Regions from separate parts of the Homo sapiens genome. Here all the other regions are linked to region 7. The links come from fine-mapping of genetic effects on gene expression. A gene starts in region 7. Each other region holds a variant in brackets. All regions are shown on one strand. Distances are between the middles of the regions. Region 1 overlaps TASOR (transcription activation suppressor). Region 2 has its middle 37 kb from the start of CCDC66. Region 3 overlaps ARHGEF3 (Rho guanine nucleotide exchange factor 3). Region 4 has its middle 16 kb from the start of TASOR. Region 5 overlaps TASOR (transcription activation suppressor). Region 6 overlaps TASOR (transcription activation suppressor). Region 7 holds the start of CCDC66 (coiled-coil domain containing 66).

What was found.
Region 1: its variant is fine-mapped to the expression of CCDC66 in skeletal muscle (GTEx, PIP above 0.99).
Region 2: its variant is fine-mapped to the expression of CCDC66 in whole blood (TOPMed, PIP above 0.99).
Region 3: its variant is fine-mapped to the expression of CCDC66 in whole blood (TOPMed, PIP above 0.99).
Region 4: its variant is fine-mapped to the expression of CCDC66 in whole blood (INTERVAL, PIP above 0.99).
Region 5: its variant is fine-mapped to the expression of CCDC66 in whole blood (INTERVAL, PIP above 0.99).
Region 6: its variant is fine-mapped to the expression of CCDC66 in whole blood (INTERVAL, PIP above 0.99).

The regions. Positions count from the first base shown.
Region 1 is chr3:56,650,325-56,654,324 of GRCh38, forward strand. All of the region lies in intron 11 of TASOR (transcription activation suppressor), which reads right to left. Among named protein-coding and RNA genes, the nearest start is that of TASOR, 31 kb to the right of the region's middle. The variant T/C (reference allele first, on the strand shown) is at 1,977.
Region 2 is chr3:56,517,924-56,522,583 of GRCh38, forward strand. No RefSeq gene overlaps it. Among named protein-coding and RNA genes, the nearest start is that of CCDC66, 37 kb to the right of the region's middle. The variant C/T (reference allele first, on the strand shown) is at 2,458.
Region 3 is chr3:56,768,732-56,773,391 of GRCh38, forward strand. All of the region lies in intron 2 of ARHGEF3 (Rho guanine nucleotide exchange factor 3), which reads right to left. Among named protein-coding and RNA genes, the nearest start is that of ARHGEF3, 31 kb to the right of the region's middle. The variant C/T (reference allele first, on the strand shown) is at 2,473.
Region 4 is chr3:56,696,840-56,701,499 of GRCh38, forward strand. No RefSeq gene overlaps it. Among named protein-coding and RNA genes, the nearest start is that of TASOR, 16 kb to the left of the region's middle. The variant GTGTGTA/G (reference allele first, on the strand shown) is at 2,011.
Region 5 is chr3:56,634,000-56,637,999 of GRCh38, forward strand. All of the region lies in intron 17 of TASOR (transcription activation suppressor), which reads right to left. Among named protein-coding and RNA genes, the nearest start is that of TASOR, 47 kb to the right of the region's middle. The variant T/G (reference allele first, on the strand shown) is at 2,390.
Region 6 is chr3:56,676,579-56,680,578 of GRCh38, forward strand. All of the region lies in intron 1 of TASOR (transcription activation suppressor), which reads right to left. Among named protein-coding and RNA genes, the nearest start is that of TASOR, 4.7 kb to the right of the region's middle. The variant C/CA (reference allele first, on the strand shown) is at 2,430.
Region 7 is chr3:56,554,381-56,559,040 of GRCh38, forward strand. CCDC66 (coiled-coil domain containing 66) reads left to right here and starts at 2,795. Exons shown (of 18, transcript NM_001141947.3): 1 at 2,795-2,873; 2 at 4,466-4,530. The coding sequence starts at 2,863. RefSeq lists enhancers at 2,238-2,910, 2,911-3,582, 3,051-3,210.

The DNA of each region.
Region 1 (4,000 bases), 96 kb after region 7:
GTAAAGTGGTATTGTGTTTGGGGGTTTCAGGTAGCTTAGTTGACCACTTTCTCCAGGGTCAACTTCTCCTTCAGTTCAATCTGTGCCAAAAATGAGTCTTAGATACCTGGTACTCAAGGAGGTTATTTTAGTGGAAGCAGGCTGGTGGTATGGGACAGATAAAGTCATGGGGTCAGATGACCAAATGACTAGGTCCATCTGAAGACCATTCTAAACTTTGGGGAATCTTTCCCCATTTTTACTGCCTGGATTCCATGAGGGTCAGTTATCAGGTCTTTCTTTTATAAAGGAAGTTCAAATATTCTTGTAAGGGTAAACTTTGTTGTAAGGTTTCTAATAGTTAATCTGTGCTGAGGTGGCCTTGTTTCCTAAAAATCCCAGGGCCAAGGTTAAAAATCCTCAGGCCAAGTTACATCATACTGCTGACATATAGTATTGGCCCTGCAAGATATTTAACTGGGTCTTACGGCTACCATTTATAGCCACGCTAAGTCTCTTAGAGTATACTACAAGCGGACAATGTACCTGAAAATTTTGTTTCAAATACTTTTATCCAAAGTATTTTAGATAATATACTTCTTTTAATATTTTGTTCAAACTCCTAGTTGATGAAATAAAAAGTTACGAAGCACAAGATTTTCATGTTTTGTGCTCACTGACGAAAACCAATTAGATGCCTTTAACCTCTCACTCACTCCAAATACTAGGTTTTATAAATTCCACTACCAGTAACCTAAAGATTCCTGTATTTTAAGGGGGCCCAATGTTTCCAGAAATCCATGGAGTACAAGCAATCTATGATCAGAAACAACACTAAGGCTGACAGAGGCTTCAGCAGTTATATCTGTGGCTTCAGCCCAATGAAATCCATTCAACTCTGCAGAAAAGAAAAATCCTGCAAATTGTGCTCCTGTTGTCTCTATTTTAGCTGTTTGGTTATTCTTAAAAAAAAAAAAAGATATTAATCCAATCTCTGGGGTTTTTAAATTAGTTTATTCTACTATTTTAAATTTCCAGATAACATTAAAGGTATTATAGCACTCCCCCACCCCCACAAAAAAAGAGTTAGTATAAATACATGTACAATGGGCCAGGCGCAGTGGCTCATGCCTGTAATCTCAGCACTTTGGGAAGTCGAAGTGGGAGGAGGATTGCTTGAAGCCAGGAGTTGAAGACCAACCTTGGCAACACAGCAAGACCCCAACTCTACAAAAAAAATTTTAAAAGTTGTCATGTGTGGCGTCATATGCCTATAGTCCTGGCTACTTGGAAAGCTAAGGTGGGAGAATTGCCTGATCCTGAGAGTTCAAGCTGTGAAGCTGTGATTGTGCCACGCACTATAGCACCTCAGCCTAGGCAACAGAGAGTCCTGTCTCAAAAAAAAAAAGCTTAGAAGGAAATAAGCTACACTAAAGTGAGATTCAGCAGAAAAAAAAAGATTCAAACACTCAAAGGCATCAAAAATTGGAATTATCAGATGCAAAAAGGAAAATAATCCACTATGAAATCTTTAAAGACATAAAATAATTGGAAGAATTAAAAACATTTTCAAGCAAAAATGTTTACGCTAATGTTCATAGCACCATTATTCATAGTAGCCAAGAAATAGAAATAACTGATAAAAGAACAAACAAAATGTGGTATTATCTACACAATGAAAGCATACTGGGCCATAAAACAGAATGAAGTTCTGATATATGCTACAACATCAATGAGCCTTGAAAATTATGCTTAGTGAAAGAAGCCAGGCACCGAACGCCACATATTCTTGACTCTATTTATATAAAATGTTCAGAGCAGATAAATCCATAGAGACAGAAGTAGATTAATGGCTGTTAGGGATTAGGAAGGGGGAATGTACAGTGAATTCTGAGATGAAAATGTTCGGGAATTAGATAGTGTTGATGTTGCACAACAGTGTGAATCTACTTTTAAAAAAAACATAGAATTATATACTTTAAAATGGCTAAAATGGC[T/C]GGGCACGGTGGTGCACACCTGTAATCCCAGCACTCTGGGAGGCCAAGTTCAAGAACAGCCCAGGCAATATGGCAAAACCCTGTCTCTACAAAACATACAAAAATCAGGCAGGTGTGGTGGTACGCACCTGTAGCCCCAGCTACCCAGGAGGATGAGGTAAGAGGATCACTGGACCCCAGAAAGTCGAGGGTGCAGTGAGCCAGGATCACACCACTGCACTCCAGCCTGGATGACAAAGCAAGACCCTGCCTATTTAAAAAAAAAAAAAAAATGGCTAAAATGGTTAATTTTATGTTATGTGAATTTTATTTCACTTAAAAAATATAGGCAAAGAATACCGGAATATAATGTGCACCTCCTAGAACTCTGCCTGGCGTATGATAGGTACTCACTAAATACTTCTGAAAGACTTAACAAGAACCTGCTATAAAATAACCAGGCAGATCCAAAAAAATTCAAATGTAACTTTTAAAAATAAAAAACATTCCCTGTGAAATTAAAAACACAATAAATAAATAAAGCAACAAATAAGACACAGCTAAATACAGGATTTTTAAACTAGAAGATAGTTATGATGAAGTTACTTAGAATGCAGCACAGAGAAACAAATAGATGGAAAACATAGACAAGGTTAACAGACGTGGAAAATATGCCTCTTCAGAGTCCTAAAAAGACAGGCCAGGCCGGGCGCAGTGGCTCACGCCTGTAATCCCAGCACTTTGGGAGGCCGAGGCCAGTGGATCACCTGAGGTCAGGAGTTCACAACCACTGGCCAACATGGCGAAACCCTGTCTCTACTAAATACACGAAAATTAGCCAGGTGTGGTGGCACACACCTACAACCCCAGCTACTCGGGAGGCTGAAACAGGAGAACTGCTTGAACCCGGGAGGTGGAGGTTGCAGTCAGCCAAGATCATGCCACTGCACACCAGCCTGGGCAACAGAGTGAGACTCCATCTCAAAAAAAAAAAAAAAAAAAAAAAAAAAGAAAAGACAAGCTAAAGAAAATGAGGGAGAAGTACAATAAAAGAGATAACTAATTTTCCAGAAAAAAAGACACAAATCCACAGATATGAAAGGAAAAGATATACCAAGCTGGATAAATAGAAATCTACACCTAGATACTGTAACTGCTAAACATCAAAGACCAAAAAAAAAAAAGATTTAAAAAGTAGCCAGGGGGCGGCAGGGGACCTACAAAGGAACAATTAGACTGAGAGCTAACCCCTAAACAAAAATAGAAGCCATAAGACACTGCAGCATAGTCAAAGTGCAAGAAAATAGCTGTCAACCCAGAATTGTGTACCCAGCACCCAATGATTATAGATTATACATTTTTCTCAAACACAGAAGGAGCATGTACAAAAATTGACCACACAGTAGATCTTAGTCTCAACAAATTTCAAATAATCACCACCATTGTTGATTACAATGCAATTAAATTAGAAATAAAAAAGACAAAAGTATCCCTGTTTCCCTATACACATACCTCTACATCATATATCAAAGTTAAAAAAAAATTGGAAACTAAAAAATAAAAATTTCTTAGAAATGAATAATGAAAATACTGCACATTAAAACGTGAAATGCAACTAAAGCACTACTTACAACTGAGTATTTATTGACTATTTTTCTGACTTAAAGACAGAAATAGCAAAACAAGTCTCAAAAAAGTAAAAGTTGGCCAGGCTTGGTGACTCACCCTGGTAATCCCAGCACTACGGGAGGCCGAGGCAGGCAGATCACTTGAGCCCAGGAGTTTGAGACCAATCTGGGCAACATGATGAAACCCTGTCTCTACTAAAAATACAAAAATTAGCCAGGTGTCATGGAGCATGCCTGTAATCCCAGCTACTTGGGAGGCTGAGGCAGGAGAATCCCTTGAACCCGGGAGGCAGAGGTTGCAGTGAGCTGAGATTGTGCCACTGCACTCTGGCCTGGGAGACAAGAGCGAAACTCTGTCTCAAAAAAAAAAGGCAGAGATGGTATAAGAAAGGAAAATTTCAGGTCAATCTCATTCAT
Region 2 (4,660 bases), 36 kb before region 7:
TGATGCCTCTTGATTACATAATCCTTTGCAGCTTAGCTAGAGGAAATAGTTTTCCCCCACTGTAACATCTGTCTTTTAGTTTAGACTCCGATATGGACAGATGAAAATTAATCCACCTAGAGAGGCTTGAACATAGACAAAAGTGACCAAATACAAGGGGCAAATGCAAGTCTCCTACTGAGTCTCAAGAAGAAAAAAGAAGGTTTCACTATGCAAACAGACCATATGAAATATTATTTGACAGTGTGGCTAATTTCATTCATAAAAACTAAATATGAACTGTGGGTGTCTGAGAATATGTAGAATTCAAGACCAGCCTGGCCAACATGGTAAAACCCCCATCTCTACAAAAAATACAAAAAAATTAGCCAGGTGTGGTGGCACCCACCTGTAGTCCCAGCTACTAGGGAAGCTGAGGTGGCAGGATCACCACCTGAGCCCGGGAGGTTGAGGCTGTGGTGAGCTGAGATGGTGCCATTGCACTCTAGCCTGGGTGAAAGAGGGAGACCCTGGAAAGAAAAGAAGGAAGGAAAGAAGGAAGGAGTGAAGGAAGGAAGGAAGGAAGGAAGGAAGGAAGGAAGGAAGGAAGGAAAAGAGAGAAAGAAGAAAGAAAGAAAGAAAGAAAGAAAGAAAGAAAGAAAGAAAGAAAGAAAGAAAGAAAGAAAGAAAGAAAAAGAAATGTGGGAGGGAGGGAAGGAAGGAAGGAAAAGAGAGAGAAGAAAGAAAGAAAGAAAGAAAGAGAAAAGAAAGAAAGGTGGTAGGGAGGGAAGGAAGGAAGGAAGGAAAAGAGAGAGAGAAGAAAGAAAGAAAGAAAGAAAAGAAAGAAAGGTGGGAGGGAGGGAAGGAAGGAAGGAAGAGAAAGAAAGAAAGAAAAAGAAAGAAAGAAGAAAAGAAAAGAAAGAACTATCAGAGAGCTTGGAGTTGGGAGAAGAATAATAAAACAAAACCCATATTCCTAGGTTGCTAAGACTTGCACCCAGATCTGTCAGCCTACAGAGTCCAATGTCATAACCATGGAACTCTACTGCCTCCCAAGCCTGAAAGTGCTATAAAATGACTCTTGAAATTTTAAAATCTCATATTTCTATGTAGCTTTCTTTTCCCAGATGTGCATGCACACCATTTCTCTTACCAATCAGCAGTGTGTGTGTGAGTGCTTGTGTGTGTGTGTGCACCTGTATGTTTTCTTTTTACTTTCTCCATGATAAATTTTTCCAGGTTGTCTCAATAATTCAATACACAAATGTCCTATTCTACATTTTAGATATTCCTGTATCCAAATGTATTTTTTATAAAGCAGCTTTTACCTCCATAGGCCCAACTGGAAATTTTTTACATTTTAAAACCGTAGGCAAATGATAAACATTTCACTTGCTTCCCAACTTTCTCTCCCATGTGGAAACAGAAGCGGATATGTAGACTGCTTTCCTACATCCAAGTAAATAAAGATAAAATCTCTTTGGAAACGTACCATTTTGATAATGATCTTTTCCTACCCAAATTTCCATATTTGAAATTCTAAAGGGATCTAGAAAAACAGTTCCACCCAATAAACAATGTTTGCATAGTTCTCTTTGCTAGAACTCCTTTGGAGATAACTCTGGAGATAAGTGTAAGTATAAATTGGATTTAAAAAGCAACTGCCATGTAAAGAAATCTGTTTCTAAGAGCAACTGAAATTACAAGAGTCATGTGAAAGAGTGCTGAGAACGCCATCTTTCCCTAAGCCCAGAGTTTGTCTCTTTTCTGAGTTATGTATCTGTTATTTTGATGCAATTTCTTCTGATCTATATGTTGTGCTACTAAGGCAGCTGAAGAGGTGACAAAGTTTATTTGAACTAGGCAGTGGAAGCATCAACAGACAGCTTGGATCAAGTCAGAGGACACATACGAGTAGATTCAAAAGACAGTGGTAATTTAGCTTAACTCTAGATTATCTCTTACATTGAATTGCCAGTGCCAACTATTGCATGGGAGTTATATTGCTTTCTTTAAATATTCATAAAGCCAGCAATAGCTGACACTCATGGATCTTCTAAAGTAGAAAGGTTCCCAAAAGAATGTTTAAAATATAAACTTGTTAAGAAACAAATCTAAAGGAAAATGTCCAAAGATATCCAGCAATTTACACTTCTATGGGAAAATGGCTATCGCTGGAGTTGTTCTCTGCGCCAGGCCCTTTTTATATATACTTGTTATCGTCTGCAGAGCAAGTATTAGTATCCATATTTAGAGAGGAGAAAGCAGTCCCAGGAAGAAAGGCTGAGTTATCCAAAGGCACACAGCTGATGACAATCGTGTTTATCTGGTACCAATCCCTGGGCTATTTTTTACTCTACTAGGCTTATTAACTTTCTTTCCAGAAGACTCCTTCTCCGGAACACTTCTCAGTGACTTCTTGGACTTCACAATTTTGTGTTGATTTACATCTTCATCTTTCTAACAAGGAATCAGATT[C/T]CCTCAATAATTTCATTTCAGGCTATTTGTCATCAAGCTAACAACAAATGACTCCCTCAGGATGGAGTTATGTTGATGTGTCTACTAATCACTCCCCTGGTTTGCAGATCTTGGTTGCATTCAGTCTCTGGTCACAGAAGAGGCACTTTCGATCTCATATGATAGTTTGTGGAGCAGGGATAGAAATTATGAAGGACATGTTCTATCCTCCTGCCTCTGTCAGCCAAGAAGACCTTGATCATCTGTCATGCATGGTAACGTTCTCTACAGACCTCAGGCTTGGCCTCAGAATCCTTCTCAATCTAACACCCCACACAAACCAATCCATTAAAATTGACAAGTGAGATGAAATTCAATTGCTATCACCTATACAGGAAAACCTTCTTTATGCCTACCAGATACAGAAACCTTTCTTAATTAGTAAAGTGTCCCAAAATAATAACTTCCAAGTATACAGAGCTAGAATTCAAATTATCTTATGAAGTCAAAATTTAACCCATAATCAAGAAGAATTTGTAATTAAATCAGAGAGCTGACTAAATAGGCATTAAAGTTTACTTTAAATATAACCAAAGAGGCACCTAGGGCTATATCTCAAAAAAAAAAAAAAAAAAAAAAAAGGCAGAGGTATCTGGAAACCCAAATTCTTTGTCTGCTTTTATTGGGCCTTGGGTCTTTAGTATATCAAATGCAACTCAGAATCACCCAATTAATCAAAGGAGCTGTTAAAAATCATCTGATTATCGGCCGGGCACGGTGGCTCATGCCTGTAATCCCAGCACTTTGGGAGGCCAAGGTGGGCGGATCACAAGGTCAGGAGTTCAAGACCAGCCTGACCAACGTGGTGAAACCCCGTCTCTACTAAAAATACAAAAATTAGCTGGGCACGGTGGCGGACACCTGTAATCCCAGCTCCTCAGGAGGCTGAGGCAGGATAATCGCTTAAACCCAGGAGGTGGAGGTTGCAGTGAGCCAAGATCACGCCATTGCACTCCAGCCTGGGAGACAGAGTGAGACTCCATCTCAAAAAAAAAAAAAAAATCATCTGCTTATCTACAGGGAACTTAAACAAATTTACAAGAAAAAAAAAACAAACATCAAAAAGTGGGTACTTTTTGAACAGACTATAAACAGACACTTCTGTTCATAGTCTATGAACAGACACTTCTCAAAAGAAGACATTTATGCGGCCAACAAACATATGAAAAAAAGCTCATCATCACTGGTTATTAGAGAAATGCAAATCAAAACCACAATGAGATACCATCTCATGCCAGTTAGAATGGGGATCATTAAAAAGTCTGGAAACAACAGATGGCTGGCGAGGATGTGGAGAAATAAGAACGCTTTTACACTGTTGGTGGGAGTGTCAATTAGTTCAACCATTGTGGAAGACAGTGTGGCGATTCCTCAAGGATCTAGAACCAGAAATACCATTTGACCCATGAATCCCATTACTGGATATATACCCAAAGGATTTATAAATCATTCTACTATAAAGACACATGCACACATATGGCAATAGCAAAGACTTGGAACCAACCCAAATGCCCATCAATGAGAGACTGGATAAAGAAAGTGTGGCACATAAACAGCATGGAATAATATGCAGCCATAAAAAAGAATGAGTTCATGTCCTTTGCGGGGACATGGATGAAGCTGGAAACCATCATCCTCAGCAAACTAACACAGGAACAGAAAACCAAACACCGCATGTTCTCACTCATAAGTGGGAACTGAACAATGAGAACACATGGATACAGGGAGGGGAACATCACACACCAGGGGCCTGTCGGGGGTAAGGGGAGGGAGAGCATTAGGGCAAATACCTAATGCATGTGGGGCTTAAAACCTACATGACATGTTGATAGATGCAGCAAACCACCATAGGCACATGTATACCTATGTGACAAACCTGCATATTCAGCACATATATCCCAGAATTAAAGTAAAAATTTTTTTTAATTGTCTGATTATAAATCCAGGGAGATCAAATTTTCTCTTCTCTTGTTCAAAGCCCTTTTTATTTTTATTCATTCATGTAACAAAAGCTTACTGAGTGCCAGCCCTCTGCCAGCCACAGTGCTTGATGCTGAGGTTGCCGGCAATGACCGTGGCAGAGGGTATCTCTGCCCTCACTGAGTGCTCAGCTTAGCTGTCTTCATTCATGCATGCATCCCCGGGCAGTAGCCTCCTGCTGGAA
Region 3 (4,660 bases), 210 kb after region 7:
ACAGGAATATTTAATCCTAATAAAAGGTGCAACTCCCCCAGGAGGCTGTAATGGTGACAAATATGAACATTTGTGCACCTAACTGCATAGCTTGGAAATGTGTGAGGCTGAGACTGACAGAGATGCAAGAGAAACTGATCATCCACAGTCACTGTGGGAGGCTTTAACCTAAAAGTGAGCAGATCACCCAGACAGAGATAAGGCTGAATAGACTGTGAGGAACCCAAAACTAGGCTCAGAGTACGTGAGCTCTGCACCTATGCCTAGAATAGTGCTAGAGGGAAACTGGTAAACTATTAATGGATTGTTTTGGAGTTGGAAGACTATACATGTTCTTTTTCTCTTTCTCCTTTTCTGCATTTTTCCATAATGAACATTCACTTTTATAATGGAAAAGGAAAAAGTGCAAGTCCAAAGAGAATGAGGGGCTACATCACAACATCATGAACACAACATTCCATAGCATGTGCTGAACTCAGCTCAAATGAGTCCAGTAGCCGTGAACAGCTGTGGACAGGGAGAGGCAGGGCTCAGGGAGCGACTGGCCAAAGGCGAGCTCGCCTTCCTCACTCCACACCAGAGGAGCGCATGAGGTCCCCTTTCAGAGCTGGGCCAGATTTTCCTCTCAGGCAGGCCAGGGAGGGAATTTATAGGCTCAGAGGGATCCAGACATCTGTGCTTGAGTCTACCGGCAGTGCTAACCTTCCTGGTGAGAAGCAGATAGAGAGCCATGCAGTCAGGCTGTCCCTCCCCAGCGTCCACAAATGCTGCCTTTGTGTTGGGGTGCAAGCCCCCAGCCCATATGGGCACAGGAAGCAAGAGAGAACAAATCCTGCAGTGTCTTGCTGAACTGTGGCTGCAAGGACCACTCACATGTGTGACTGGGCTTTTAACATTTTTGGAAGTGGCTGCCAGCCCAGAGCTCTCCTGATATCCTCCTGGGCTAACTTGTGGTCTCCTGAGGAACCAGAGGAAGGTCTGCTAAGTGTTCCAGCACTGATTAGAGCACCTTATTTGGGCTTAAGTCATCTCTTCTATAATTAAAAGAATCCAACCTGAGAGACATAATTGAATATCCAAAGGAATATATATGTCTCTAAGGTGTCAGAAGCCAGGGAAAAGGAATACTGCAACAGAGAACCAAGCTGCTCAATTACAGCCTTGAGTCATTTTTGGAATAGAAAAGGCATAAATAATACACACATATGGGTAATGGATGGCTGCTGAGAGGTTTGGGGCAGCTGATACACTCTTTGTTCTCTGTTTCTCCCTTATTGGAAAGGGAACCAAGACTTAGACAAAATCGGAGAGGATGTGAAGTGAGCCCACTGAGCACCCCTTTGGGGCCAGCTCTTCCCCCTCATCCTTACTGCTCCCAGGCCACATTAAATTAGCATCCAGCCAGGTGCAGTGGCTCATGTCTGTAATCCCAGCACTTTGGGAGGCTGAGCTGGCGGATTACCTAAGGTCAGGAGTCTGAGACCAGCCTGGCCAACATGGCGAAACCGTCTCTACTAAAAACACAAAAATTAGCCAGGTGTGATGGTGGGCACCTGTAATCCCAGCTACTCGGGAGGCTGAGGCAGGAGAATCACTTGAACCCAGGAGGCGCAGGTGGAGGTGAGCCACGATCACGCCACTGCACTCCAGCCTGGGTGACAGAGCAAGACTCTGTCTCGAAAATTAAATTAAATTAAATTAAATTAAATTAAATTAAAATAAAATGAAATAAAATAAAATATAAATTGGCACCTTCTCTCAGTCTAGCTGGTGAGGGAAACTATTATTGAGATGCTAGGGCTGGAAATAATGCCATAGAAGTTGCACCGTGTGCACCAAGGTGAGTTACAAGAAGACATGTGGGGACAAGCTGGCATTCTCCATGCTTTGCAGATCATTCTGCAAACATGGCTGCTAACTCTGCATACAACTTGAGGGGTGTATTTCCATTCACTGTCCCCCCAAGGACACTCTCAAACATAAGCACATCGCTCAATTCTCTCCATATCTATGTACATTACCATTGTGAATAACTCTTCTGTTTCTGCTGGGTTGTTTCTGGCCAATATATAAAGCTTAGAGTAAGCTATTTATCACAATATTTGAAAAAATTAACTTAAAAACTTATTTTGCACTTTGGGAGGCCGAGGCAGGTGGATCACTTTAGGTCAGGAGTTTGAGACCAGTCTGGCCAACATGGAGAAACACCATCTCTACTAAAAATACAAAAAATTAGCCAGGCGTGGTGGTGGGTGACTGTAATCCCAGCTATTTGAGAGGCTGAGGCAGGAGAATCGCTTGAACCCGAGAGGTGGAGGTTGCGGTGAGCTGAGATCGCGCCACTGCACTCCAGCCCAGGCAACAAGGGTGAAACTCCATCTCAAAAAAAAAAAAAAATTATTTTGCCAAAAAAATCTTTGAGGTTTTAAAAACCAATTTCCACATGTCAGATCCTCCTTTGGGTCTGGCTTT[C/T]TCATCCTTGCTTGGCCTCAGTCTGCTGGATTTCAGACATGGCTTGATTTCTTTCTGTTCTAGTTCTCTAGGTCAATGTAAATTTCTGAGGTGAGCAAATGTTTCCTGCACTGTTACCTGTGAAGGAACCCCAGAAACAGAAGAAAGAAATTTTGCCTGAGAAGCCAAAAGAAAGATTTTGAAGGTATGGTAACAGATCTTAAAGCAGCCAGGGCTGGGCTGTAGTGGGAGGCACAGATTGTGCTCTTCCTAGGCCCAGGAGCACAAACACAAAAAGCCTACCAACTAGGCAAGGCAATGACAGAGAGTAAAGGGCCAGGTGTTAGAAGGGCAATTGGGAGAGGTGGGGACATTTGTAGGTGATGGTTGGCTGGCTGCCTAGGTCTAGCTCATTACTGCCATGTGGGAACACAGCACTGCAGCAAACCTACCAAAAGGCAATTCTGTTATATCTGGAACATAGCAATATGAGGGCAAGAAGAGCCTAATGCCTGATGAGGATTCACTCAACACTGACTGAATGAATGAGGGCCTTCCTGGGCAGAGGGTGGACTGTCCTGGGAGCAATAATGGGAAGAGATGGCTGGTAATTTGGAGGTCTGACAATCAAGGAAGGAAATAATTGCAGAGTGAACTTGAGCCACAGCCACTGGGATGGAGAGGAAAGGGTGAAATGCAGTAGACATTCTGAAGAATTTTCAAAAAGCAGTAACTCAGTGAGAGACCAGATGTGCGGGACTAGGGCAGTGATGAATCTTCCAGGGGATGCCTGCGATGAACTTGTCGAGAGGGCTGAAGAACTGGTCACAAGGGAGAAAAGGTAAACACATTCTTCTTCACTAGTTTCAAAGCCCTTCATCTTGCTCTCCCAGATGACCTTATTTTCTCTTTCCTCCATTCTCCCACAAAAGGGATCAGGGTATTAACCAGGGATCCAGCGGCCCAAGTGCTGAGAGAAACAGACCCAAACCTATAGCTAATTACGTGAGGTATTCATTCAGGAGAAACTGCAACAGAGTTAACAGAGGAACGGGCAGGGCAGGGGAAAAGCAATGGAGAGGAAGGGCATCTATGGGAAAGTAGCAAGAACCACTTGGGCTATGTGGAGTCATGACATATTGGCTGTATGGTAGGCAGGCAAGGACAGAAAGGGCTGAGGGAGAACCTCAAACAGTTCTCAAGTCATGGATTTTCACAGCATGAGGCATGCCTTGGGTTCTGGTCCCCAGTTTTCTTAAAGACTCAGAAAGCAGAGATACAAAATATTGCCAAGCAAAAGCATTCAGGACAAATACATGGCAGACTCAAGACTGCTGCTCAGCTAAACCAGGTGAGCCTTTTCATGGCATATTTTTTGTGGGCTTCAATCTAAAAGAAAATTTGTATAATTATCAAATTGGTCCAAGGGCTTGGATAAATCTCAACGTTCACTTTAAAAGATACACTTCATCAACAGTTTAAGAACAACTATAACTACTTGTTAACTAAAAAACTATCATAGTAGCTAATATTTACTACTTAGTTAACGAATTTGAAGATTAATGATTGCTAACTAAGGGCCAAGGTGTTATGCTATGCCCTTTAAATGCACTGTCTTGTAAATCTTTACAATGATTCCATGAACGTTTGGTGGCATCATGGCAAATTTACTGATATGGAATAGAAGCAAGACCTATCTGTAGGATGAAGTATGGAAAAAACATTTTTTTAATAAAAAATAAAAGCAAGACCTAGAGATGTTAAGTCACCTGCCCAAGGTGAGCCGAGGTTAGAACCCAAGGTACTTCCACTCCGAGGTCCTTAGGTCCTCATTCTAAGCCAAGGGTCAGCAAACATTTTATGTAAAGGGCCAGATGGTAAATATTTTTGGCTTTGTGGGCAATATGGTCTCTGTCACAACTACTCAATTATGCCATAGTACAAAGCAGCCATGGACAATAAACAGATGGGCATGGCTATGTTCCAACAAAACTTTATTTATGGATACTGAAATTTGAATTTCATGTCGTTTTCATGTGTCACGAAACAGCACCATTCTTTTGACTTTCCCCCAAGAATTTTAAAAAGTAAAAATCAGGCTTAGCTTGTGAGCCATAAAAAAACAGGTGGTGAACTGGATTTTCTCCACCCAATGCAGTTTGCCGACCCTGGTTGAAGCTACTAGGCTCTGTTGCCCTCCAGCTAACAT
Region 4 (4,660 bases), 140 kb after region 7:
AGGTATATAATACAGGAAGTTATTTGACAGGCAACTATGCTTAAATTTATGTTAATTGTGTAGAAAGAACTGAGTAAATCATTTCCTGTTTTCTCTCCACCTGCCCCCACCAAAAAAAGAAAAGAAAAAATTCTAAATTTGACCAATACAATAATAGCAAGATAACGCAAAGATTACAATGGGATATGGCCTGGGTCAATTAAAGCACCAGCAATTGGCATTGGACCCTCCACCTTATGCATGTCTATATCCAGCCATGATGTGAATATGTGAGTAGCAAAAGTGCTAGCTGTGTCTTTTCCTGATTTTTTTTTTTTTTTTTTTTTTTTTGAGATGGAGTTTCACTCTTGTTGCCCAGGCTGGAGTGCAATGGCGCCATCTCAGCTCACTGCAACCTCCACTTCCCAGGTTCAAGTGATTCTCCTGCCTCAGCCCCCAGAGTAGCTAGGATTACAGGCATGCGCTACCACGCCTGGCTAATTTTGTATTTTTAGTAGAGACAGGGTTTCTCCATGTTGGTCAGGCTGGTCTCGAACTCCCAACCTCAGGTGATCCACCCGCCTCGGCCTCCCAAAGTGCTGGGATTCCAGGCGTGAGTTACCGTGCCTGGCTCTTTTCCTGGTTTTTATATTTTAATGATTCGTATTAGAGTTAATTCACATTAACCCTCTTCAAAAAGAACATTAAACCTAAAGCCCAGTGACTTAACAACATTAAATATTCCAGATTCTTTTCCCCAAAAAGTTCCATTTCAACTCTTGGAAACAAAAAGTTAGATAATGGTTTGGCTTTAAATGCCTCATTTCAAATGTCCTTCCCCATAATACTCCCAAGTGAAAAAAATATTTTTTCCCAATTATTTTTTCATTTAATGTAAAACATTCCAGTTAAAAGAGATTCTCAAAAATAGAGCTTTACAAAAAATACGAGTTCAAGTTTCAGTACCCTACCCTTCCCCCACCCCCGGCCCAGTGGCTCTGAAAAGATAGGCAATTAATAATAAGTTTTTTCCTAAGAAATCTTTGGGGAACCAGCCAAGTTTAAATAGGGTAATTGGTAGGTCTATGGTTGCAATTTACATAAATTATAGAAACATAACACCAGACATTTATCTAATTGAAGAAAATGTGGTGTTCAGTTACTTATCTAGAGGAATTCTACTTGCAGTTTGTGCCATTTGGTGATTAGTCCATTCTCTTGAGAATCTGAGTTGCTCTAGAGACAGAATATATGATAATAATGGTCCAAAAAATCAGTTTTGCTTACTTAGCAACAACAAAAAATATATATTAAAAATAAAATACTATTCATATACATTTCCTTGATAAAAATAGTATTGAAATAGTATAAATCCATAATTCCTTTAGAAGATGCTTATCCACATTCCTGTTAGAGATGTGGAGTAGTTAACACTCACCAGATGATGCTCTCCTTCCTTCCTTCCTTCCTTCCTTTCTTTCTCTTTCTTTTTTTTTTTTTTTTTTGAGATGGAGTTTTACTCTTGTCGCCCAGGCTGGAGTGCAATGGCATGATCTCGGCTCACTGCAACCTCTGCCTCTTGGGTTCAAGTGATTCTCCTGCCTCAGCCTCCCGAGTCTGGGACTACAGGTGTGCGCCACCACACCCTGCTGATTTTTGTAGTTTTAGTAGAGACGGGGTTTCACTATGTTGGCCAGGCTGGTCTCGAACTCCTGACATCAGGTGATCCACCTGCCTCAGCCTCCCAAAGTGCTGGGATTACAGGTGTGAGCCACCGCACCCGCCAATGCTCTCCTTTCTTTCAGTGCTAAAGAACTCTTCACTCTCTTAATCAATCTGTTATTACAAGTCCTATGGCCCTTTGTTGAATTTCTGTTTACTAGAAATATAATAAGCAACGTAAGATATTTAATTTTGTCAAAGTCGTTCCAAATCTCTTATACTAAATAAGTATAAAGATACTATATATGTATATATATATGTGTATATATGTGTGTGTGTGTATGTGTGTGTGTGTGTGTGTGTGTGTGT[GTGTGTA/G]TATATATATATATATATATTTTTTTTTTTTTTTTTTTCCACCCAGGCTGGAGTGCAGTGGTGAGATCACAGCTCACTGCAGCCTTGACATCTCTGGCTCAGGTGATCCTCCCACCTCAGCCTCCCAAGTAGCTGGGACCACAGGCATGCACCACCACCCGGGCTAATTTGTATTTTTTGTAGAGATGGGATTGTGCAATATTGCCCAGGTTGGTCTGGAACTCCTGGGTTCAAGTGATCTGCCTACCTTGGCCTCCCAAAGTGCTGGGATTCCAGGTGTGAGCCACCATGCCCAGCCTGATAATAAGCAAAATTCCACTTCCCTAGTGCTACAGACTAAATTTTTATGTCCCACCCAAATTCATATGTTGAAACTCTTAGGATTTCACCATCCTTGATAATTGTCAGATAAAGAAGTAGGACCTTTGGGAGGTAACTAGGTCATGAGGGTGGAGCCCTCATGCATGGGATTAGCGTCTTTATAAAACAGACTTCAGAGAGCCCCTTTACCCCTTTAGCCATGTGAGGACGCAGTGGAAAGATGGCTGTCCACGAATGAGGGAGTGGTTCCTCACCAGACACTGGATCTGCCAGTGCCTTGATGTCAAACTTCCCACCCTCTAGAACTGTGAGAAATAAGTGTTTGTTGTTTATAAGCCACCAGCAATATGGTACTCTGTTACAGCAGCCCAAACTGACTAAGACATCTATTTCTTACCTGAAGGAGTTTGAAGTGGGGTCAAATGCAAGTTTTACATTCTTTTAAATGTAAAAGCCTGGGCGCAGAGGCTCATGCCTGTAATCCCAGCATTTTGGGAGGCTGAGGCAGGCGGCCATCACGAGGTCAGGAGTTCGAGACCAGCCTGACCAACATGGTGAAATCCCTGTCTCTACTAAAAATACAAAAATTAGCCGGAAGTGGTGGTGTGTGCCTGTAATCCCAGCTACCTAGGAGGCTGAGGCAGAAGAATTGGTTGAACCTGGGAGGCGGAGGTTGCAGTGAACCGAGATCACGCCACTGCACTCCAGCCTGGGCAACAGAGTGAGACTCCGTCTCAATTAAAAAAAAAAAAAAGACAAAATAGCATACAATTCTGTCTCAAAGCCTCAAGTACCTTTAACTACAGTCTGTCTACAATAACCTAAGACATTCAAAAGACAGGAGAATGCTCATACCCTCATGCTGGGACACTGATAATCTGGAGCTTACTACATTGACATCACTGGCACCCACTTACTAAACACATGCAATTACTTAGCAATTAGTTCTTGAACAATTTGTGTTTGCTAAGAACTATATCTGACCCAGGGAATAAAACATAAGACACAGTTCCTGCTTGTAAATACACTAGCAAAAGAGAAGAAGACTATCTTGTAGAGACTAGCTGAGTCAGTGAATGTCAGAGATGAAGAGGAAGGGCAATGGCATGAGTGGAATTCCAGGTAGAGAAACGGTGAGAGAAAAAAAGAACAAAGATACCAATGTGAGAAACAAAAAGGTTTCTGCAGCAGGGAAGCACAGTTGGCTGTTGTGGTATACAGGATGAGGCGGCAAGTGGAGAGGCGGGCTGGTCTGAAGGCTCTAGCTGAATCACAGAACATATGCCACATTAAGGGATTTGGATTTAATCCTGATGCAAAATATAAGAAGTTAAGGATTTTAGGTAGAAGCTGACCCAATCAGTCGTGCATTTTAGACAGATCATTCTGGGTTTCTTTGTTGTTTTTAACTTTTCATTTCTTTCTCTCTTTCCTTTTTTCTTTCTCTTCCTGTCCTTTCTTTCTCCTTCCTTCCTTCTCCTTCCTTCCTTCATTCCTTCTCCTTCCTTCCTTCCTTCCTTCTTTCTTCCTTTCTTTCTTAGGGTCTCACTCGGTCACCCAGGCTGGAGTGCAGTGGCACAATCACAGATCACTGCAGCCGAAACTTCCAGGGCCCAAGCTATCCTCCTACCTCAGCTCCCCGAGTAGCTGGGACCACAGGTGTGTGCCACCACACCCAGCTAATTTTCTTATTTTTTGCAGAGACGGGAGTCTACCTGTGTTATCAGGCTGGTTTCGAACCCCTGGGCTCAAGCAGTCCTCCCACCTTGGCAACCCAAAGTGCTTGATTACAGGTGTGAGCATTCTGGTTCTCGTTATAGAAGGTGGATTTTAGGTGGATTGGAGTCAACAAAACTACTTAGGACATTGTTGCAAAAATCTAGGTAAGGATGGCTTAGAACTTCTCCATCCTTGGTCATTGTCAGCCTAGATACAAACTGAGGTTGCACTACAGTGTGAGAGAATTTCAAAGAAGCAGGAAAGAAGTAGAGATGGGTTTTACTAAAGTACTAGTAATCACAGTTACTAAAGGATGCTGTTGTTTTTCCCCCACTCCCCACCACATTCTTTTTTTAACATGTCAGTAATTTATAACTTTCTGAAAGGACCAAATAATAAACCATAAAATGATGATGCCAGGTGTTTTGTTACGTGTTTTTGTTGTTGTTGTTGTTGTTGTTTTGAGATGGAGTCTCACTCTGTTGCCAGGCTGAAGTGCAGTGGCTCGATCTTGGCTCACTGAACCTCCGCTTGCCAGGTTCAAGCGATTCTCCTGCCTCAACCTCCCAAGTAGCTGGGATTACAGGCACGCGCCACCATGCCC
Region 5 (4,000 bases), 79 kb after region 7:
TCCAAAAAGATAAGATATGAAAACACAAACCCTTAAATTGGGGGAAAAAAGGGTTAACACACATTTAGAACTAATTATATATTAGAAGGTAAAATAAAATCCTAAAATTCTGGTATGAATTCTATTCCCTATGTGCCCTACTTATGGGATGGTCCTTAGAGTTGTAGCTAGTGTTAACAACTCTGCTATTTTGAAGCGCTCAAGCAAGCACCAATTTGGCATCAATACAAATTAAGTCATTTGCTTGTTTCTGCCTCCCTACCATTCTGTAGATCTAAGTTTAATACACATTTTAAATCAAGACAGTCAATTACATCAGCTTGCTCAATCCCTGTATTTATTATTTGCCAAGTAATATCTACTATGGTAATGGCCCCTTAGTAAGAATTCTGAGTGTAAGGCAATTGTAAGAATACCAAACAGAAATGCTGTGGGAATAACTGCCAAGTTAAAAGTTGCATCTAGGATCTAGGATAATTAATTTTATCTGCTTTCAGACTTGTTCTCACTTACGAGGTTGCTAAGTAGATTTCCTGTAATGTCAGGGACTTCATTTTATCAGGAAATAAAAGGAACAATAATAAGACAAGAGAAGAACATATTTCACAGCTGCACATTTTTGACAGTCCTTTCATAAATATTTTCCTTTTGTTTGGAAATAATTCTAAAAGAAAAGATAGCTATACCTCATTTGAGATACAGATGTTAGCTGATACTAAGGTTAGCTGATACTAATGAGATTAAAACCTTTCACTCTTGACAAACAGCTCAATCCAAAAGATCATACTTTCCCCAAAAAAATCCTAAATTCAAACACAGTATGTTTTTGAAACTACATTTGAAAAAGGGAACTCTAATTCCATTTTTAAGCAACAAGGGGAAAAATATATTTAACTTCAATTTTAGTGTTATATTTTAGGAAAGGACAAAAACTCATGATCTTTGCTTAGAAGACGTATACACAATTTTACCCGCTAAAAAATTACTGTTTTTCTTTAAGCCTTGGCCAACATTCCCTAACAAATTGCTGCTGTAGTATAGGAAATGGTGCCTCTAAATCAGAAAGTCCAGGTACAGGTAGTTTTCAAACTTACAGTGAAGATTTTGCTCACACTCATCACACTTTTCTAAAGGTTTAAATAGCCTCACTAGGAGTCGAGCTTATGACATTCTCTACCAATCCTGGTGGTTATCATGAACCAGTACACTCATTAACTATTGCAAAGGCAATTTGTCAGCACAGTGAAAAGACCCAAGGCGGGTCTGTAGGCGGAGGTGAGAGGGGAACAAAATATCCAACGTGCCAGGATAAGAATTAGAACTGTATGAAATTGATAAACCAGAAAATCCAAGTTTCATAAGATAATTAGGAGTACTAAATATCCTGAGTATCTTAAATCTCCAACATTAAAATGTGCTTTAGTACACATAAAGTGTCTGGAAGGATACACGAGAAATTGGTAACCATGGCTAATATATGGGGAAGAATCTAAGTGTTCCGGGCTGGGGCAGTATTACTTTCTTAAGTATTTTTGGACTTCTTGAATTACGTATCATGTCAAATATCTGATATATTCAAAGAAAAAAAATTGAATTGCATCTCATAAAACATATGGGTTGCGAAGAACTACCTTAATTTAAAAAATTCTGAATTATTTATTAGACATGGGGCCTCACTATGTTTCCCAGACTGGCCCTGAATTTCTGGCCTCAATTCCTCCTGCCTCAGTCTTCCAAGTAGATGGGATTACAGGTACATACCACCACACCCAGCTATTTATTACTTTAAATGCAACAGTGGCTCCCAAAATGTATAGCTAAACAACAACCAGTAAGTTTACTCCTCAAGGGTTATAAATAAAGGGAATATTTTTAACCTGAAATATAAATTAAATCCACATGGAGAATTTTCCATAATTAAAAACCTCTAAACCAAATAGATCCCTTTATAAAATATAAATAATCACAACCTAATTTTATTTTGCACAAATTTCCCTGTATGATTTTATTAAGAACTTAACTGCTCAGGCACAGTGGCTCATGCCTGTAATCCCAGCACTTTGGGAGGCCAAGGCAGGCAGATCACCTGAGGTCAGGAGTTCGAGACCAGCCTGGCCAACATGGTGAAACCTCGTCTCTACTAAAAAAAAAAATACAAAAATTAGCCAGGCGTGGTGGCGAGCACCTGTAATCTCAGCTACTCAGGAAGCAGAGGCTGCAGTGAGCCAAGATTGCACCACTGCACTCCAGCCTGCCTGGGCAACAGAGCAAGATTCTGTTGCAAAAAAAAATAGAAAAAAAAAACAAAACTTAATTATTTTGAAAATATCTTCATCTATAAGTGATTGAAAACACACATACATGTCAATCCATAATAAAGCTTTTGTTG[T/G]TGGTGGTGGTGGTGGTGTTGTTGTTGTTGTTGTTGAGACAGAGACTCGCTCTGCCACCAGGCTGGAGTGCAGTGGTGAGATCTCGGCTCACTGCAACCTCCACCTCCCAGGTTCAAACAATTCTCCTGCCTCAGCCTCCCGAGTAGCTGCGACTACAGGCTCAAGCCACCATGCTCAGCTAATTTTTTTATTTTTAGTAGACAGGGTTTTACCATGTTGGCCAGGATGGTCTCGATGTCTTGACCTCCTGATCCGCACACCTTGGCCTCCCAAAGTGCTGGGATTACAAACATGAGACACCGTGCTTTTTTAAAAAAAAACTTATTGCCATTAAATAATTGCAGTATTTTAACTTTTAAGTGAAAGGGGAGTAGTCAGTTCTCTAAAGGCACCATCATTCAGATGTCTACACTTTAGCTTACAAAATATAAAGATGGTATTTCCAAATAAGAGGAATGCAGGTGCTGATGGAACATTCTGAAGCATAAGAAAGATAACTACTAGCCGGGCACAGTGGCTCACACCTGTAATCCCAACACTTTGGGAGGCCAAGGTGGGCAGATCACGAGGTCAAGAGATTGAGACCATCCTGGCCAACATGGTAAAACCCCGAAATCAGAAAAGAATTACTGATAGATGCAAAACATGGACTCCCTGACACGATATTGCATGAAAGTACCAAACACGAGAGACGACATGAGTAGGCTCTATTTATCCTAAGTTCAACAACAGGCAAAACTAATCAGATTAGCACTTACTTGGGAACAAGGAGAGTACTAACTAGGAGAATGTGGAAGAAAATCTTCTGGGATGCTAGAAACGTTCTACATCTTGATTTGGGTGATGGTCATGTACATATGTAAAATTTCAAAAAGCTGTACAATAAAGATCTGTGGCCAGGTTCAGTGGCTCACTTGAGGTCAGGAGTTCGAGACTAGCCTGGCCGACAAGGTGAAACCCTGTCTCTACTAAAACTACAAAAATCAGCCGGGTGCGGTGGCACATGCCTGTAATCCCAGCTACTTGGGAGGCTGAGGCAGGAGAATCGCTTAACCCAGGAGGCAGAGGTTGCAGTGAACCAAGATCATGCCATTGCACTCCAGCCTGGGTGACAGAGAGAGATTCTGTATCAGAGGGGAAAAAAAAAAAGATTTGTGAACTTTCCTCTATGTTATATATCTGTTGTTCATGGTTTCTTTTTTTTTTTAACCACATTTTCCTAGAAGGAGATGGTGAAGATTTTCTTCAAGGAAACTAGTAACTTTAATTAGCGGGGGAGGGGAACTCCCAAAGGAAATAAATAACTACAAAGATGTAGTCATTTCACATTTCTTACAAATAAAAAAACAACACTTTAATTTCTGAAAAGAGTCAGATACAACAAAACTGAAGGAAAATATAAAAAAGATCACCACCAAACTGTAAACAAGAAAACAATGCCTATGACCATCTGCAGAGAAGTTGAATCCACCAAGATCAGACAAAGATTATCTCCTAGGTACCCACTGCCAACTAGCTAATCAATAATATCTGCAACTGTTTCTGAAATCCAAGTTTCTTAATCTTATTTAATCTACCTGCAGAAATTAGTTTTACAATCAGAAGAACTA
Region 6 (4,000 bases), 120 kb after region 7:
TTTACACGATTTTGTTTCTAAACAAAATGACTTCAGATATATAAAATGTACACAAAAAAAGGTATCACATGGCTGCCAATTTCTATGAAATGTTAGTCTACATAAAAGAAATTTTCATTAGTTAAGCTACCCAATACAATTTCTACCATTAATCTAATCGTAAGTAAAAAATTAGTCAAATCATGAATCTGCATAAAAGTTCACATCCAAATTATTCTCAAAGTACTTAACATTTCCAGTTGACTCTAAAGCAATGTCCAAGTCATGTCCAATGTACTAAAAATGACAGCTGACAGGAAAAAAATTATTGCAAATGAAAAGGAAAAAGCATTTTAGCTTTAACAATAAATATCTGTATCCTAATTATTTTGTATTGCAAATGCCTCAGTGGCTTCGTTAGGCCGGTTATAATTTCTCATTTTTTCTGGTGATAATTTCTAAGATAATAAAATTATCCTGCAACTATTTTTAAGGATTTCAAGTCAACTTGCTGCTAACAGCAGTTCAGAAAATTTATTAAGTTCATGTTCTGAATGTACATTTTCTGGTAGTCTATTTTATGTCCTCAGAGGTCATTTAACACTACATGTATCTCGATCAATGTATCCTGTCACTCCTTTTAAAGAAAATATTTAAGTCAAAAATCTCAATTATGGGTCACTATTTGAGGTAGTAATAATAAACAACCCTGTGTCTATCCAAATAGGGAAAGCATTATGTATATGAATTATCCATTTCACTCAGGGAACTCAGTATTCAATACACTGTTCTCTAGATTGACAGTTACTGTCTAACCATTAGTGGTTAAGTACCACCTTCAATACTGTACTAAGAGCTTTACATATATCATCTCAATCATCAAAACTACACTATGAAGTTCAACATGCCCGTTTCTCAATTGAAACTGAGACAAGTAGCCTTTTGAGTTGGCCCAAGGTTACAGGGTTAATGAATGAATCAAGCTGCTGGGATTCAAATTCAAGTGGTTAAGCTCCCTTTCTTGTATCCTGAAATATATGATGTGTGTGTGCATATGGGTATTAGACATACAATGTCCAATCATGTCAAGAGCTGGAAAAATGACTGTTTCCTCACTTTATAGACTAGAAATCATATACAACACTTAGACACAGGAAGTTAATATAAAAGAACAAAGAATTTCGTTCTAATACTGCTCTTTCTACCTTCCTATCTTCTCTCAAATTTCTTAATTTTTTCTGATTTTAATTTTCCTCTAGAGACAACAGGGCCAAGAGTCGTAACACCCTTTGTTTTATAAAGGTTAACAGCAGTAGCAATAGAAGTTCTTTCACACATTAAGAAATGTGTAATTTTGCTTATTTGATCGATTTCCATTAAATGCCTGTCAGAAGAACAGCTAAGTTGATTACTGATCACACAAGGTTTCCCTACTTACAAATTATAGATGTATTTTACGAGACTGAAGAGCAGATTTACAAGGGCACTTAGAGATTTATAATTCAAACGAGGAAACTGATAGTATCATAGAATTTCAACTGGAATTCAAATTTCCTGACTCTTAGCCATACTATCATCAAATATTTTTTATTACTAGTATCATACAAAACACACTTATGATTTTTTTTTTTTTTTTTTTTTTGAGATGGAGTTCTGCACTGTTGCCCGGGCTGGAGTGCAGTGGCGCGATCTTGGCTCACTGCAACTTCCACCTCCTGGGTTCAAGCTATTCTCCTGCCTCAGCCTCCCGAGCAGCTGGGATTTCAGGCACCCACCACCAGGCCCAGCTAATTTTTTGTATTTTTAATAGAGTCAGGGTTTCACCACGTTGGCCAGGCTGGTCTCAAACTCCTGACCTCGTGATTCGCCCACCTCGGCCTCTCAAAGTGCTGGGATTACAGACATGATCCACCATGCCCAGCCCACACTCAAGATTTGAAGGTTGTATTTATAAAGGCAGTGGGCATTGATATATAATTTAGGTCATCAAACAGCTTTGTTCCTTAATCAAAAGAACATCTTCATCAATTAGTTTTACCAATTTGTTTGGTGTTAAGGCAGATCTTTTTGTATTATGTATACATGTATCACAAAAAATATTATCATATATACATAAATTTAAAAAAGCTAAACTTAAAAGACATATCATTCCTATCAAAACATACAAATGGGGCTGGGCGTGGCGGCTCATGCCTGTAATCCCAGCACTTTGGGAGGCCAAGGAGGGCGGATCACTTCAGGTCAGGAGTTCCAGACCAGCCTGGCCAACATGGCAAAATCCCACCTCTAAGGAGAATACAAAAATTAGCTGGGCGTGGTGGCACATGCCTGTAATCCGAACTACTGGGGGAGGCTAAGGAAGGAGAATCCTTTGAACCTAGGATGCAGAGGCTGCAGTCAGCCGGGATCGCAACACTGCATCCCAGCCTGGGCAACAGAGGCTCTGACTC[C/CA]AAAAAAAAAAAAAAAAAAGACATACAAATGGGTCATACGAAGTACAAATAAACAATTGTCTGATTTAAAGTAACTAATACATAGAAGATGACGAAATAATTAGCAAGAAGAGGCTGAGGATCTGAAATTTTCTGAATTCACAGCTGACGCCTATTAATGATTATAATACAACCACTCTCCATCCATTTGTTCTTCACAGTAAGATCTTTTTTTAAAATCACTTTTCTTCATTCTAAAAAAAATTACCACAGACAATACTTTAGGAGTGGGTACTTCATCTCTACATCAACAAGGTTGAACATAGTGTACAATTAGAAATGAATATGCTGGCAGGAATCAAGAGTACAAATACGAAACAAAGTTTTTTGGACTGAGGATAGCTCAAAGTAAATTTTACCTTGATTACTTTGCTATTATGTATGGAGAGAGCTATTGTTCTCAGAACCCACTCATCCATATACAACTAATGAAATACCATGGAAATTTCCTTAAGAATGAGACTTGGCTCCAATGACTTCAAAAAGGCAAGTGAAAATTTTGTGGGGGAAGATGGAGGTTAGGAGAATTAGCCATTACTTCTGGACTAAACCAGTATGGAAATTTAGTGCATGAGCGCAATTAATTTTTGAGACTCCCTTGGACCCTACAAAAACATTAACCAATAAACGTTTTCCAGAAAGTGAATCATCGCTACTCCATTTCCCAAGAACTTTGGAGGGAAAAATTACATCAAATGCAATTACCAATTTTAATTTACTTTTTATGACTCACTAGATTTAAAGAAGGCAATAGTGAAACATCTACCAACAAAATGCAATTCTACAATTTGGTTAAATTCTATAATTTGGTTAAATGTAAGAATCATGCCTCAGCCAATAAATAACATACATCAAAAACAGTAAAATGTATACCTTTCCAGTCAAAGACGCACTTAGTATGTCAGTACCAACCAAATGTTGATAGTAAACATAATTTCTGAATGTCAAAATTCCCCAAGGATGAAAACATACTAAATATTTCTATATTTAATGAAGGGGGGGAACAGTTTTTGTTACTAACAGGTCAGGTCAAAAGCAGCTAACTTAAACCCTTAGATTATTCAAACTGGGTAGCAAGATTTTTCTTTTTTATAGTAGTAAAAGTACTCTACAACTACCTTCAAATTCCATCTCCACAACTTAGCTGTGTGACCTGAAGCAAGTTACCTAACTTCTCAGTACTTTAGTCTCCTCATCTGTAAAATGGGAATAGTACCTACCACAAAACATTGTTGAGATTTAGTCAATGTATGTAAATTGCTTAGAACAATGCCCACAACTTATTAGGCACTATACAAGTGTTTGCCAATATTATTACTCAATTACAATGGCAGTTATTTTGGATGTCACACTACTGGGAAGACCAAAAAAAGAACTTTCTGAGTCAAGTTGTATTTGCATAGCAGTGACCTTTAAGGTATTAAAATATTTAAGTCCTAATCTTAAATTTCACTGGAAAAGCACAGTCACAAGAAAAGGTCTACCATATTAAAATATGAATGCAACAGAACCTGCACTGTTTTTGAATTTTT
Region 7 (4,660 bases):
TCAGAGTTTTGTAATTTTCCTCATATAGATTTTATACATATATTGTTAGATCTATACCTAAGCATTTGATTTGATGGGATGCTAATGTGAATAGTATTGTTTGTTTGTTTGTTTGTTTTTGTGACGGAGTCTCTCTCTGTTGCCCAGGCTGGAGTGCAGTGGTGCGATCTCGGCTCACTGCAAGCTCCACCTCCTGGGTTCAGGCCATTCTCCCGCCTCAGCCTCCTGAGTAGCTGGGACTACAGGCGTCTGCAACCACACGCAGCTAATTTTTTGTATTTTTAGTAGAGACGGGGTTTCACCGTGTTAGCCAGGACAGTCTCGATCTCCTGACCTCGTGATCCGCCCGCCTCAGCCTCCCAAAGTGCTGGGATTATAGGCGTGAGCCACCGCGCCTGGGCAGTATCGTGTTTTTATTTTCAGCTTCTATTTGTTCATTGCTGACATACAGGAAAGCAATTGGCTTTTGTGTATTAACCTTGCATTCTGCAATGCCACTATACTCACTTATTAATTCCAGGAGGATTTTTTGTGGCTTCTTTCAGATTTTCTACATAGACAATCATGTCATCTGCAAACAAAGTTTTCTTTCTTTCTTCCCAGTCTGTATACTTATTTCTTTTTCTTGTCTTAGCTAGGACTAAGGCTAAGTCTTAGGATTAGCTCAGACTTCCAGTGTGATGTTGAAAAGCAGTGATAAGAAGAGACATTCTTGCCTTGCTCTTGTTCCCAATCTCAGTGGAAAAGTTGCACTTTTTCACTGTTAAGTGTGATATTGGGCTCTACAGGATTTTTTTAAAAAATAGAGATAGAGTCTCACCATGTTGCCCAGGCTGGTCTCGAACTCCTACACTCAAGCAATCCTCCTGCCTTGGCCTTCCAAAGTGCTGCAATTACAGGCATAAGCCACCACACCCGGTCTCTAGGAGATTTTTTGTAGATATTGCTTATCAAGTTAAGGACGTTCTCCTATATTGAGAGATTTTAAGAAGCAGAGTGAATTAAGCAGATTCACATTTTAGAAATCATTCTGGCTACAGGCTCACGCCTATAATCCCAGCACTTTGGGAGTCTGAGGTGGGAGGACTACTTGAGGCCAGGAGTTTGAGACCAGCCTGGGCAACGTAAACAGACTCTGTCTCTACAAAAATTTTTTTAAAAATTAACCAGGCGTAGTGGTGCATGCCTGTAGCCCTAGCTACTTGGGAGGCTGAGACAGGAGGATCATTTAAGACCAGGAGTTCGAGGTTACAGTGTTATGTTCGTACCAATGTAGGCGGCCTGGGTGACAGAGCAAAACCCTGTCTCTAAAAAAAAAAAAAAAAGAAAGAAAAGAAAAAGAAAAAGCAAGTGTTGGGGTGAAGAAATTAGAACCTCATATACATTGCTGGCAGAAATGTAAGATGCTGCAACTGTTATGAAAACAGTTTGGCAGTTTCTCGAAAAGTTAACCATAGAATTACCATGTGACCCAGTAATTCCACTCTTAGGTGTATACCAAGAAAATTGAAAATAGGGATTCAAACAGATACTTGTACATCAGTGTTCACTACAGCATTATTCACAATAACTAAAAGATGGAAACAACCCAAATGTCTATTAATGGATGAATGAGTAAACGAATTGTGGTATATATATACATAGAATGGAATACTATTCAATCATAAACAGATATGAAGCTCTGATACATCCTACAACATGGATGCACCTTGAATACATTATGTTACTTGAGAGAAGACACAAAAGGACAAATATTGTATGATTCCACTTTTATGACATGAAGTATCTATAATAGGCAAATTCCTAGAGACAGAAATAAGATTAGAGGTTTCTTAGGATTGAGGGGAGAGGAAAATGGGAAGTTGTTGCTTAATGGGTACAGAATTTTTATTTGGGGGTACTAAAAAGCTTTTGGAAAAATATACTGGCGTATTCCACAACATTGTATCATGGAATTGTCACTTGAAAATGGCTAAAAATAGCAAATTTTAACACACATATTACAACAATAAAAAATAAAAAAGTAAAGGTTTGTCAGGCATTTAATAATTAATACCTTTCATTGTTTTTGTCTGGAAAGAGTGTGTGCAAAGATACTTAACAACCAAATGTAATGTGTGATCCTTGATCGGCTCTTGCATTTTTTTTTTTTTTTTTTGAGACGGAGTCTCACTCTGTCGCCCAAGCTGCTGGAATGCAGTGGCGCGATTGGCTCTTGCTTTCTAAATAAAATGCCTATAAGATATTCTTAGGACAAGTGGGGGAAATTAAATCGGGAAGAGAATTATTATGAAATTAATGATCTTAGGTATAATAATTGTACTGCGGTTATGTAGCAGAACATCTATTCTTAGGAGATACATGCTGCAATGTTAAAGGGTTAAGTGTTACAATGTCTGCAATGTTAAAGGGTTAAGTGTTACAATGTCTGTAACTTACTTGCAAATGGTGACCCCAAAAAGGTGTGTGTGTGTGTGTGTGTGTGTGTGTGTGTGTGTGTGTGTGTGTGTGTGTGTGTGTGTGTCTGTGTACGCGCTTTGGAAGGCTACAATTGCGAGAAGCGCAGGTCTCCGCCACCGAAGCTTTAGACTCATAAGCCGGGTCAGGCCAAATTCCGCTGTGCGTAGGGGAACAAACGGCACAAACGGGGCACAAAAGGGGAACAAACGGCATACGCAACCGTCCCCGCGGGAGCCCCGGCCCAGCTCAGCGCACCCGCCAGCATGCCCCACCCTGATTGGTCCACTTGCTCAGCTCGCCGGCACCCCTATATCCAATTGGCGTAGCGCTTGCTGAGCGGCGGCGGCAACCGACGTACACAAGGGGCTTGAGCGTTCTGTGGAGAGAGTGCGAGGTCAGGCCATGAACTTGGGGTAAGCAGGGGTAAGCTGGGGTAAGCTGGGGTAAGCAAGGTGGTCGTCAGCGGAGAGGGAGGCATGTGTGTCTGGGTTGTCCCTTGGAGTCTTTACTGGAGAACGTTCCCAACCTGCGCCGCCGAGAGGGGCAGAGCCCAGTTCTCGGGTAGAAGATCGAGGCAGATGGGTCGGCCCTTAGCGACTCCACAGACCTTACGTTTTCACTTAATGACTAGCATTAAAACTGCCAGTGATCCCCTTTCGGTCCCTTATTTACCTCAGGATGAGGAGGGAAGAGAGGTGAGGAGGAAAGGAGAGAAATGACGAGACAGTTAGAGGAAGCGTGGCGGCTCCTGGGGAGGACTCCTGGCCCATGCCCCGGGTTCTTCGCCACCTTGTTTTTGGAGTCTTGCAGAATGTTGAAACGCCCAAATTCGTTTTAGGCCCACGAGGCGGGGAACCAGGCTTCTCAAGAAATCGATGTAGTACCAGTGCCTAACACCTAGTAGGCGCTCCTTAAGTAGGGGTGAATAAATAAAAAGGGCTGGTGCATGGTCTTCATCACTCGCAAGTTTGATATTTTGAGAAGATGAGAAGCCACCAAACTCAGACCTAACTACACATCGTTCAGCAAATGTTATTATGTTTTAGAATCTGGGGATATGGAAATAAATAAGATAGTGTGTCCCTTAAGGAGATTACAGTGCAGTGCGTCATTGAAGGTACTTTACCATTGAAGCTCTTTTCTTTCTTGGTGACGTTTCACCAACATAAACACGAACTGTTCATAACCCTACAATAAGGAAAGCCGTAAAACCTATTCTTTCCAGTGTTTTACCTTTAATAGTTAAGGTGAGGTAATTTGATTTCCCCTACCTGAGCAACACCGCAAATTTCGCATTCCTAATCAGACCTTTCCCAGCCTCTCTCTCCCTTGACTGGCTTGCTGGATTTAATTTTCTCTCTCTGAATTATGGACTGTATGTATGGGCTGCCATTTTTGTTCTCAGTGGAGTTTTAGGACCTTAACAGACGTTCAAGTTTTGTTGGCAGTGGCTACTGTTACTTTATGCCTTTGCTTCTGATATGCACGTATAAAGCACCATACTAAATATCACTATGTATTATTTGAAATATTGAAAGTGGTACTCTTTGCTCAAGCAGTTACTAACCTTGATGGCATTGTTAGTAGTCATATCGATGCTCCAGCACTCCATAGAATGTTTTAGTCATGAGTTCATTATGAAACTAATGAATGGCGGTTAAATATATCTTGTTCCTTTAACTTATGTGAGGAGTTTTGGTAACAGCATTATTAAAAAATGGTGGTATGATAACTTAATTTATAGTTTACCAATAACAAAATGAGATTTCAGGTTAATGATAACAATGCTTGTAGTATTGAAGAGTTTCAAGAATTTTCCCCCTGTAGTTGTGGGTTTTATCTTGGATTGCAAACGTTTTTAATTAAAACACTGGTTCGATGTGTACAAGATTCCTGCATAAATTCAAAATAATGGATTTATTGTCAGGTTCAAATGAACATTTCTGGTTATTTAAAATGTTGCGGTTTGTTAAAAATGAGAGACAACTTTCTTTTTTTATTACAGAGATGGTTTAAAGCTTGAAACTGAATTACTGGATGGAAAAACCAAGCTAATATTGTCTCCATATGGTATGTTGTGTTACAGAAATCTGAAATGTTAACTTTTAAATTCATACATAAAATTTATATTAGTTCAACAGACTTTTTGCTTGTAATAGAGTGATATTTAAATGATATTTTAGAAAAAGCTGTTTCCTCA